2 separate regions of the Homo sapiens genome follow, and region 2 is linked to region 1. The links come from fine-mapping of genetic effects on gene expression. A gene starts in region 1. The other region holds a variant in brackets. All regions are shown on one strand. Distances are between the middles of the regions. Region 1 holds the start of TMEM64 (transmembrane protein 64). Region 2 has its middle 25 kb from the start of TMEM64.

What was found. PIP is the estimated chance that this variant, and not a neighbour inherited with it, causes the effect.
Region 2: its variant is the best candidate, but not a certain one, in a credible set for the expression of TMEM64 in whole blood (INTERVAL, PIP 0.53).

What each region holds. Positions count from the first base shown.
Region 1 is chr8:90,643,535-90,647,927 of GRCh38, forward strand. TMEM64 (transmembrane protein 64) reads right to left here and starts at 2,549. Exons shown (of 3, transcript NM_001008495.4): 1 at 1,577-2,549. The coding sequence starts at 2,371. It overlaps LOC124906712 (translation initiation factor IF-2), which reads left to right and starts at 2,907. Exons shown (of 2, transcript NR_185471.1): 1 at 2,907-3,099. RefSeq lists an enhancer at 1,576-1,905 and silencers at 2,016-2,415, 2,546-2,955.
Region 2 is chr8:90,668,987-90,673,379 of GRCh38, forward strand. No RefSeq gene overlaps it. Among named protein-coding and RNA genes, the nearest start is that of TMEM64, 25 kb to the left of the region's middle. The variant C/T (reference allele first, on the strand shown) is at 2,795.

The DNA of each region.
Region 1 (4,393 bases):
TGGTTTAAGGATCAGAAATATGTGGAAAGAGCCGAGGACAGTAGTTGGCACACGGTAGATGGACAAGAAAAGGCCCAAGGATACATGCTATATTGAAACACAAACTAACAGAATCAATCTATTTAGGTTCCTTAGCCCAACCTTCTTTCAAAGTCCTGGGACAGTTTATTTATTATTACCCAAGACTGGGTCAAAGTTCAAGTTTATATTTCATACTATAGGAGGGTATGAAAAAGAAATTTAAGACTAAGACTATACCAAACTACTGCTAACACTAAACTTTATCTCTACAGAAAACCCCTTATCTGTTTCCACTGCCTCTACCAAATACCATTCCATAGTCATTGCTGCTGTTGCTTGGAATCAAGAGGTTTGCAAAAGGCATTTAAAAGAAAAGAAAAAAGAGAAAGGTTTTAATTTCATCACAAAGAGGCAGATTGGTTAGTATTATTCCTAATTCAAAACAAAATGAGAAAGTTTCCAGAAACTAACAATAATTTACGTTTTGAAACAAAATAATGCATCAGAATCACTTAAAATACATCAATTCCTATGGTTTTGAATGCAATTATCTCTTTATTTCAGTAAGTTTTCTTTAAGTCTAGCTGAAGGGTTAAGTTCCTGGGAATCTACATAAACTCTTGGTAGTTTAGAATCACTGAATTTGGGGAACATGGTAATCTACTTTTTTAAGTCCTTCACTTTCGAAAAGAGAAAAGTGAAGCCAGACAGGGTCAGTAACTTGATCCAAAGTCACAAAGTTTGTAAAGACCAGATTCCTTTCTTCCAATAAGATGATCTCTTCACTAGCAGTGTTTCTATCCTAAATCAGTTGCATGGAGATGCACACTAGCTATAGAAACCTGAGTAAGCAAAACATATGAATACAAGGACAGAAAAGAGTCTATAATGGTGCAGATACAGAAGAAAAATATATGCTAACTGAGCAAAAGATTATCTGTTCTGTTTTATTCACCACCCCGTGATTTCGAAATGAAGTTCCTCCAAAGAAAGAAAGATAAACAGTAGGATTTTCTTCTTTACATCACATTAAAGCACAATTACTTGAAGAAGAAAAAGCCCATTTCAAATTTAGCAAACTCCAAAATCTGGAGTCTGCAACTAGCTCCTCCACTGTTTACTGAAACACTTCCTTTGGTCCATGTCGCTAAAAACTTGAATCAAAACCCTGGATGTATTTATGTAAGCAAGAGAGAAAGCTTTCCTCCCTAAATGTTGCCAAAGCTGCTACAAAAGATGACAAGTATTAAAGATGGGCATTTCCATTCATGTCCCTGCATGCCTATTGTTAAGAGGGCTTTTCATTTTTAATTACATTCCCATCCCTAAAAGAAACATTAGTTTTTTATCTAACAAACTCTCTTTCGAGGCTCCGCGTTAGGTATGTTTTATGTGTAGGACAGACTTCCCAGGCTGCGATGGAAAGTAATCGTAACTCCTGCCGTCAATGTCACTTCTCTGCTGGTATTTATCTGATAGAGCGCCCTCCTAGGGCCGCCACAAGACCGCTCAAAAACAGACTTGGAGAGGGATAGGCCAGCGGGACCCCACTTACCGAAAACACTGCATTCTGAAGCCCAAAAGGTATGGGTGTCAGTCTGGCCAGCGCCACCACTTTCAGGCCGCTTCCTCCCTCCACTACGCGAATAACCGCGCTCAGCTTCTCGCTGCTCTGGATCCTGGCGGCCACCCAGGCGGTGAGGAGCCGCTTGCAGACCACATGGGCGATGAAGGTGCCGATGAGGACGCCCACCATCATCAGACCCATGCCCAGCACGAAGCCGTACAGGTAGCCAGCGGCCACGTTGAGCACGATGTAGCCCCAGCCGCAGGGGAAAGAGACCACGATGAAGCCCACGACGAAGAGCAGGACCCCCAGCAGCGAGTCAAGGCTCTCCACCCACAGCAGGAGGTGGTGAAGGTAGCGGCGGACCAGGGCCAGGGAAGCGAAGCACAGGGCGGCCAACACGCAGACCAGCACGAGGCTCCGGCACCAACAGGTGCTGCCGAGGCAGCAGCAGCGCCAGTTTCTCACCTCAGCCACGCCGACCACCACGCCGCCGCCGCCACTCCCGGGGCCGCCCGCCAAGGCCCCGCCCGGCTCCGGCAGCTCCGAAGCCTCGGGCGGACCGTGGCGCTCCAGATAGGCGCCGAGCAGGGCGCCCGAGGCCGCCGCTGCTGCCGCCGCCGCGCTCGCCCCGCCCCCGCGGGGAAGGCGGTCCGCCGGGCCGTCCCCGCCCGCACCCCGCGGCAGGGCCCAGCGGGCCGGCAGCTCGGCGAGGCCCGGGAGGGCGGCGTGCTGCAGCAGCCGGGGCAGCGCCTGGAGCAGGATCCCGCCCGGGCTCCGCATGCCTCGGCCCAGCGCGGGCCCTCAGCCGGCCAGCCCCTCCGCCGCGGCGCCCGTTAGGCAGCTGCCCTTCATGGCGCCCGGTTCGCCCGGCATCGACTCCCTGCGTCCGCTCAGAGGGTGGGAGACGGCCCGTAGAAGGGCGCGGAGTCAGCGGAGGAGCGACGGCCAGGCGGGGAGTGAGGAAACTCCTGCCCCAGCACCCACGGAGCCCACTCCGGTGGTGCCCGCCCCTTGTCGGCCAGAGGGGGCGGGGCCGCGGGCGATGGGGCGGAGCGGGCTGTGTTCTGGTCCGCTCCCGTGACGCGCTGCCCGCCAGGCTGCGGGGGTCGCGGGGCGTCCGCGTGGGCCAGCGGAGGCCCACAGCTGCGGAGGGAAACCACTGGGAGGGGAGAAGGAGCTCTAGGGAGAGCGAGGCTGCAACGAGGGGAGAGCCGGGCGACGGGCAGGGGCCCAGGCGCGCTCCCCGACTTCCCACAGGCGCGCGCATGCCTGCGTGTCAGGGCGCGCGCTCCCCCTCTCGGACCGAGGCGACCCCAGTCCGTGAGCGGCTTGGATCCTCGCCCGTTCCCTCCTGGTCGTTTCCGCAGTAACCTCTTATCAGAGCGGGCAGCTGTGAGTGGCGCTCACATCCGCCGCTGCCCTGTCGAATGGGGGAAAGAGTTCTTGTGTTCTGAGGAGGGTTTGGCTATGGTCCTTGACCCTATTCTTGTCTCAGACTTGCCTCCCAGGTATCGAGGTCTCCCTGTGGGTTTCATATGGCTTGGTCCTTTAGGAGCTGGAAAAATTAGGCATAAAGTCCCCCCACCCCCTTGACAGAACGCCCCTTCTGACTCCAGAGGTCCTTTATCGAGTGCCAGGCATTGGTCTAGGGGCATTTGAAAAAGATTCACTGAAGGACATTTTTAAGAGTTCGCTTTCTCAGAGGGCAGCTTCTCAAACTCATTCGCTGGTTTCTTTTCCTCTTTCCGCCTGTTTAAGGTTAGTGTTCCCCAGGTCCTCTTGCCGTCTTCCTTTTCAGAGTTTCCTGAGCCATCTCATCCAGGCCCAACAGCTTTGATCCTGCCGTGCCCCCCATAAGAAGTGACCCCTAAGTGAATGTCTCTGCCCACACTTCCCAGCTTGTGGTCCGGCCTGTGGACACATCCAGGTGGAATTCTGCAGGCAGCTCAAACTCAGCAGAGCTTGGTAGATAGATGATCAACTTGGGCTCTGGTGCAAATCACGTTTAGTAACTGGTCAAACAATCAGTCCCTGAATCTCATTGTTTCTTTTTAAATTGCAAAATGGAGATAATGGTACAACTTAGCTTCGTAAGAGTGTTGTGAGGATTAAACAAAATAGTAAAGTAAGGTGATTAGCACTATGCCTGAAATCAGTCGTCAGTAAATGTTAACTATGTGATGGTATCCCTCATTAAAAGTGTGATCCCCCATAGACCGACTCTTCCTTCTGGGTTTCATATCTCAGTGGATGACCTTCCACCCAGTTGCCTGCCAGATAACGGACCAGGACACCTTAGGTCGTTGCTGATCAGGCTCCTGCTTGCTGGCTGATCAGGCTCCTCCATGCCATTCCCTCCTATCCACCCTGGTTGGGCTGAGTCAGGTAGAGTCCCTACTAGGTGCCAGGCAAGTGCTACATCCTTCAACTCTCTTTTCCAAGCCTTGTGACTCACACGGAGGAGCAGCTCTTACTGCTGCCACAGCATTTACCTAAAGTTTTACTTCCGTAAAACAGTACCAAGGAGGGATAGTGCTAAACCATTCATGAGAACTCCATTTCCATGATCCAATCACCTCCCACCAGGCCTCTCCTCCAACAATGGGGATTACATACAGTTTGACATGAGATTTGGGCAGGGACACAAATCCAAACCATATCAGTCCTGCACTACCTTCCCTTCACCATCACCCTCAATTTGGTATTTCCTTTCCTTTCCCAGGCTACTTTCTGTATGGCCATTATCACATTTGTCCCGTTGTATTGTAATTTTTTGTTTACATCACTGTCTCCCTCTTTAAG
Region 2 (4,393 bases), 25 kb after region 1:
CATCTATGTTTGCTGCCTCCATAACTTGCCTTCCTTAACCTATTTATCTGCAGATGCTGTAGAAGAACCTCTTCTGCAAGACCATTCATTCATGCCTTGAGACAGTATGAATCAAGCTGACTTTTTTTTTTTCCAAGGAGTTTTTAAGTAAGTAAATGAATATACCAGTCAGGAGATGAAAGAGAAGTCCAGCCTAAAGATGCAAATATAGAAGATACCAGTATTTTAGTAGTTGGTAAAACCAAGGCAGTGTGTGAGATCATCTAGGAAAAAGATTATCTATCAGTTTTCTAAAGCCCATGCCTTTTTTGAATAAACAGAACACCTTTTCCCCCACCCCATTATCATTGAGAATCTTAGCCTCAACATCCACCTAGTTCCAGCTTTGTTTTTGTGTTCTACATTATAAAACCAACATTTTTGGCTTCATTTTCAAATTACTATAATATTTAACATGCCTTTTCAGACTATATATGTGACACCCCGATGAATAAGAAGAGCAGCCAGCTGAGAAGGGGAACTCTACAAAGCTATTTTTTCAACAGCTGTGACTGACCCACTCACCTCACAGGGTGGGTAAGAGCAGCAAACCATATAGATCTCTACTTATATGAAAACCATGTAGGTAGAGATCTTTGAGACTCAGTATATAAATGCCAGAATTTACACGACACTCTTGCTAAAAACAGATAATATCCATTTCTAAGAATGTGTGCAAAGGGAAATTTTTATGTTAGCACTTGCTTTTGGAAAGTCTAGCATGGTATATTACAGCGATTAGTAGTTCTATTCATTGTAAAATTTCAACCACATAGCTGCAAAGTAACTCACGGTAGATATATTTTATTACCAGCATTCAAACCATTCTCCTCTCTCTTAATATTTAATAGTTCTCTAATTCTAAATTTAGCAAGTCAAGTGGAGCAGCTCATGAACAGTGTAGGTGGTAGTATGGGTATCCTTTATTCAGCGTGGGCAGTCTTGGCTTCACTGTCAAGATTTTGTTGAACTCCATGGATTGGTTTACAAATATGTAATTGCTCTGTATATTATGCTGTTTACAGTGAATGTCAAGGCCTTTACTGACACCAATATCAGTAAAATATATTCTACAAAAAAAACAGCATTTTTTACTTTTAAATCAATAGTTCATGTGTACATTATTTAGAAATTTGAGGGAGATTGGGTTACTGTTTAATGTGTTTTGTCAGAGTGCTAAGAGTATTTCTAAACTCGCCTTAACTAAGTCTCCTCCCCTGATACCTCTGAGAGGTGTATTCTCATAAAGCAAATGATTCAAGGGAGAAAGTAACTAAGCAACAACAGTTAAAAAAAAAAACTTTATTAGTTAGGAATTTAGCTTCAAGCCACTACAAAGCTCTAGTAAGCTTGGCTGAGTACATGAAAGGCTTCTTTTTCCTGAGCTTATTAGGCCTGAATAGCCTCAAGCTAAGGCAGGCTCTTAGGATGCTCTCTCTTCATTTCTTTTCCTTTTCTTAGACTCCAGTGGGCACTAATGGAAATGGAGAGAAAGACAAACAAGATGACCCTGTTAGCTCCCTGTGTACTGCAGATGTGGTGTAGGCTGTGCTCCGAACTTAGAGAGAAGAAGGAAGAGAGGACAACCCCTCTATCCCCAAATTCTCTTCCAACCCTGTTCTGCCAGCCATCTGATTGGAAGCAAGAGGGAAGGGAGGCCTGTGGTGACCTCTCTCTTGACAACAGGGGAAAACCTGACCCTAGAAAAATCAGCTCAATCAATATCATGTGATCTTATCAAAGCAAGCAACCCTACTCCCTAAACTGGTGGAAACGGTGTGAATGTCAACTAGAGTTCTATACTTTAAAAACAACAAAAATATTGCAAATTTTGAGTATCCTTCCTAAAGAAAACAACATATTGTAATCTTGTTTTCTGTTAGATAAATCTCTGTTAAAAAGAAGCTTTGTTGGAACTCTCAAGTCTCTAAAAAATAAATCAGCCATCTTTTGATTGCTTAGGGACCCATGAAAAAGTCTGAGCACACACGCATTCTTTACGATGAGTCTCTGGCACTAAACCAGAGCCCTAGTGAGTGAGGCTGAGTCATGGCATTCCGCAAAGTCTCCTTTTGTGCCGCTGGCCTAAAGCCTAGATGAAAAGAAAGCAAAGAGGCTCCTTTGATTCCACTGCCCTAGGCCTACGCCCTAATTGTTGCTTTCAGAGTCTTGTAACTTCAGCAGTAAGAAGGGGGAAAGTCAAGTTTAAGAAAGAAAAGTGCCAAGGGTAAAAGATCAGTTCTCCTTCATAACGTAAAACTGATCTTACCTGTGTTACCCAGTCATGAGCCATTGGTGTGCATGTGTGAGTGTGTGTGTTGGGGGAAAAGGGAGCATTTTAATATGAAAACTATGTGAAAAGACACACTCTATAAGAGACAAAGAACAGCAAATCCCACAGAATGCTAAAGGTGCCAAAGGTAGAGCTGTTTACTTGTCTGCGAATCTCTTGGAAACCTTCAGCCAACAGCTGACTGGCTCAGCTTCCAAATTGTATCTTCCTTTGGCTCTCTGGCCTTCTCCCACTGAGATACTCATCATGTTGTATTATTCTTCAACAGCCATCATTTTCCTAGACTGGAAGCTACCCGAGGGCCAAAACATGTCTGTCTTGTTCTCCAGCACTTATTAGGCACTCAATAGATTTTGTTTTTCCTGTTGAATGGCATTTAATCATACACTTGACTGTAACCTTTATTCAGAACACTATTGGGGAAGGTATTTAGGGGAGGGCTTCATCATGTCTCCTAAAGCA[C/T]AGAGTCTTTAACCAAGATTAACTCTGGAAGTATTATCATTTAAATAACTGATTATGTTAGGAAAATTAAACTCATAATTACACACACACACACATTTTAATTTGTTAGCCTCTCAGACTAGGTTTTATGAGTCTGTAGCCCAATGAACCATCCTTTTTTTGTATGCTCACTTGTAATTTCATTATGAAAATTTTTGTTTCAGCTAGACTGTAAACCACGAGAGTACAGAAGACTGTGTCTTGTTTACTGCTGGATTCCTTGGGCCCAACACCTGGCCTAACATATATTAGATATTCAATAGCCATTCACTGGATAAATGAATGAAACACTCAGCAATCCCTTTTTGCAGACAAATCAGTAATCTCTTTTTGTCACTTTGCTCATTTGATTACCTCCAGGTTTTCATTCAAAGACCATTAGAGGTCTAATGTGTATGCTAACTATTGTAGTTGCTGCAGCTATTCATGATCAGTTATGTTTATGCTTCAGTAATTCTTATATTTCATTAGAAAGAGAAGGAAAAATAAATTGTTACATTACTATTTCAGAAATTAATTTTAGAAGATATCTGAAACTCAACTCCAAAGTACATACCTCTAACTTTTTGATATTATAAAATGGTGCATACATCTCTATCTGCAATATATAATACATCTATATAATTCTGGACAGTATAATACAGTTTTTACTGCATGAAAATTTATCAATAAAGTTACATATAAGTAAAATTTTAAACTATAGGCCAAATTTATTTTTGTATTTACACATGGTCACAAATAACCCTTGGTGCACAATGGTATTTCTATTCTAGATAATCCCCACAGTTCCACTTATGTAAAGTACCTTACAAAAAGTTCTTTTCAGTATTTAATCTAGACATAGATATCAAAAATGATTCTTCATTTTTTGAATTACTGAATTTTCAACAGATTATACCTTATGTTTAATCAAAAAAGATGAATAGGACTGGAAAAGTCAATTATAAAAGCAGTTGCTGCTTGCTAGTCTTACACAAATTTTTATATTTCTTTAAAGTGGAAATTTGAGACAGCAGAAGATAGTGATAAATTCTTACATATGATGCGTGTGCTTTTTTTTAAAAAAACAAATTTATGTATCATTTTTATGTTAGATGCCTTTTAATTTACATTGTCAAATTATAAGGCCCTCAGTATTAAAAGGAATCCAGAAAGATGTTCGTTCTGAGAAAAAAAAATGGTAATTTAAATACCGTATTGCTATTTAATCCAGGAAAGTTCAACTTTGCTCAATTCATAAACATTTAAACATAATTTATTTCCATAATAGGAACAGCTATGCAGAGGAGGAATGACAAGTAGAAGAGGGGAAAAGGGAAAATATAAACAAAAAAAACAGTACATTTCACACAAAAGCAGAGGAACAGAAAGTGAAATCTGAGACGTGAGTAAAGTACTCTTGTTACACCATGTTAACCACTTAGGCTGTAAGATTCAGCATGTGACACAATTTTCTGAGGCTTTTGAAGTAGTAATACTAATTAGACGATTAAGTATAGTACTATTAACCTTGACCCTGGAAGCTCCAGGAGCTTTCATTAATTATTTATTCATGGAGCT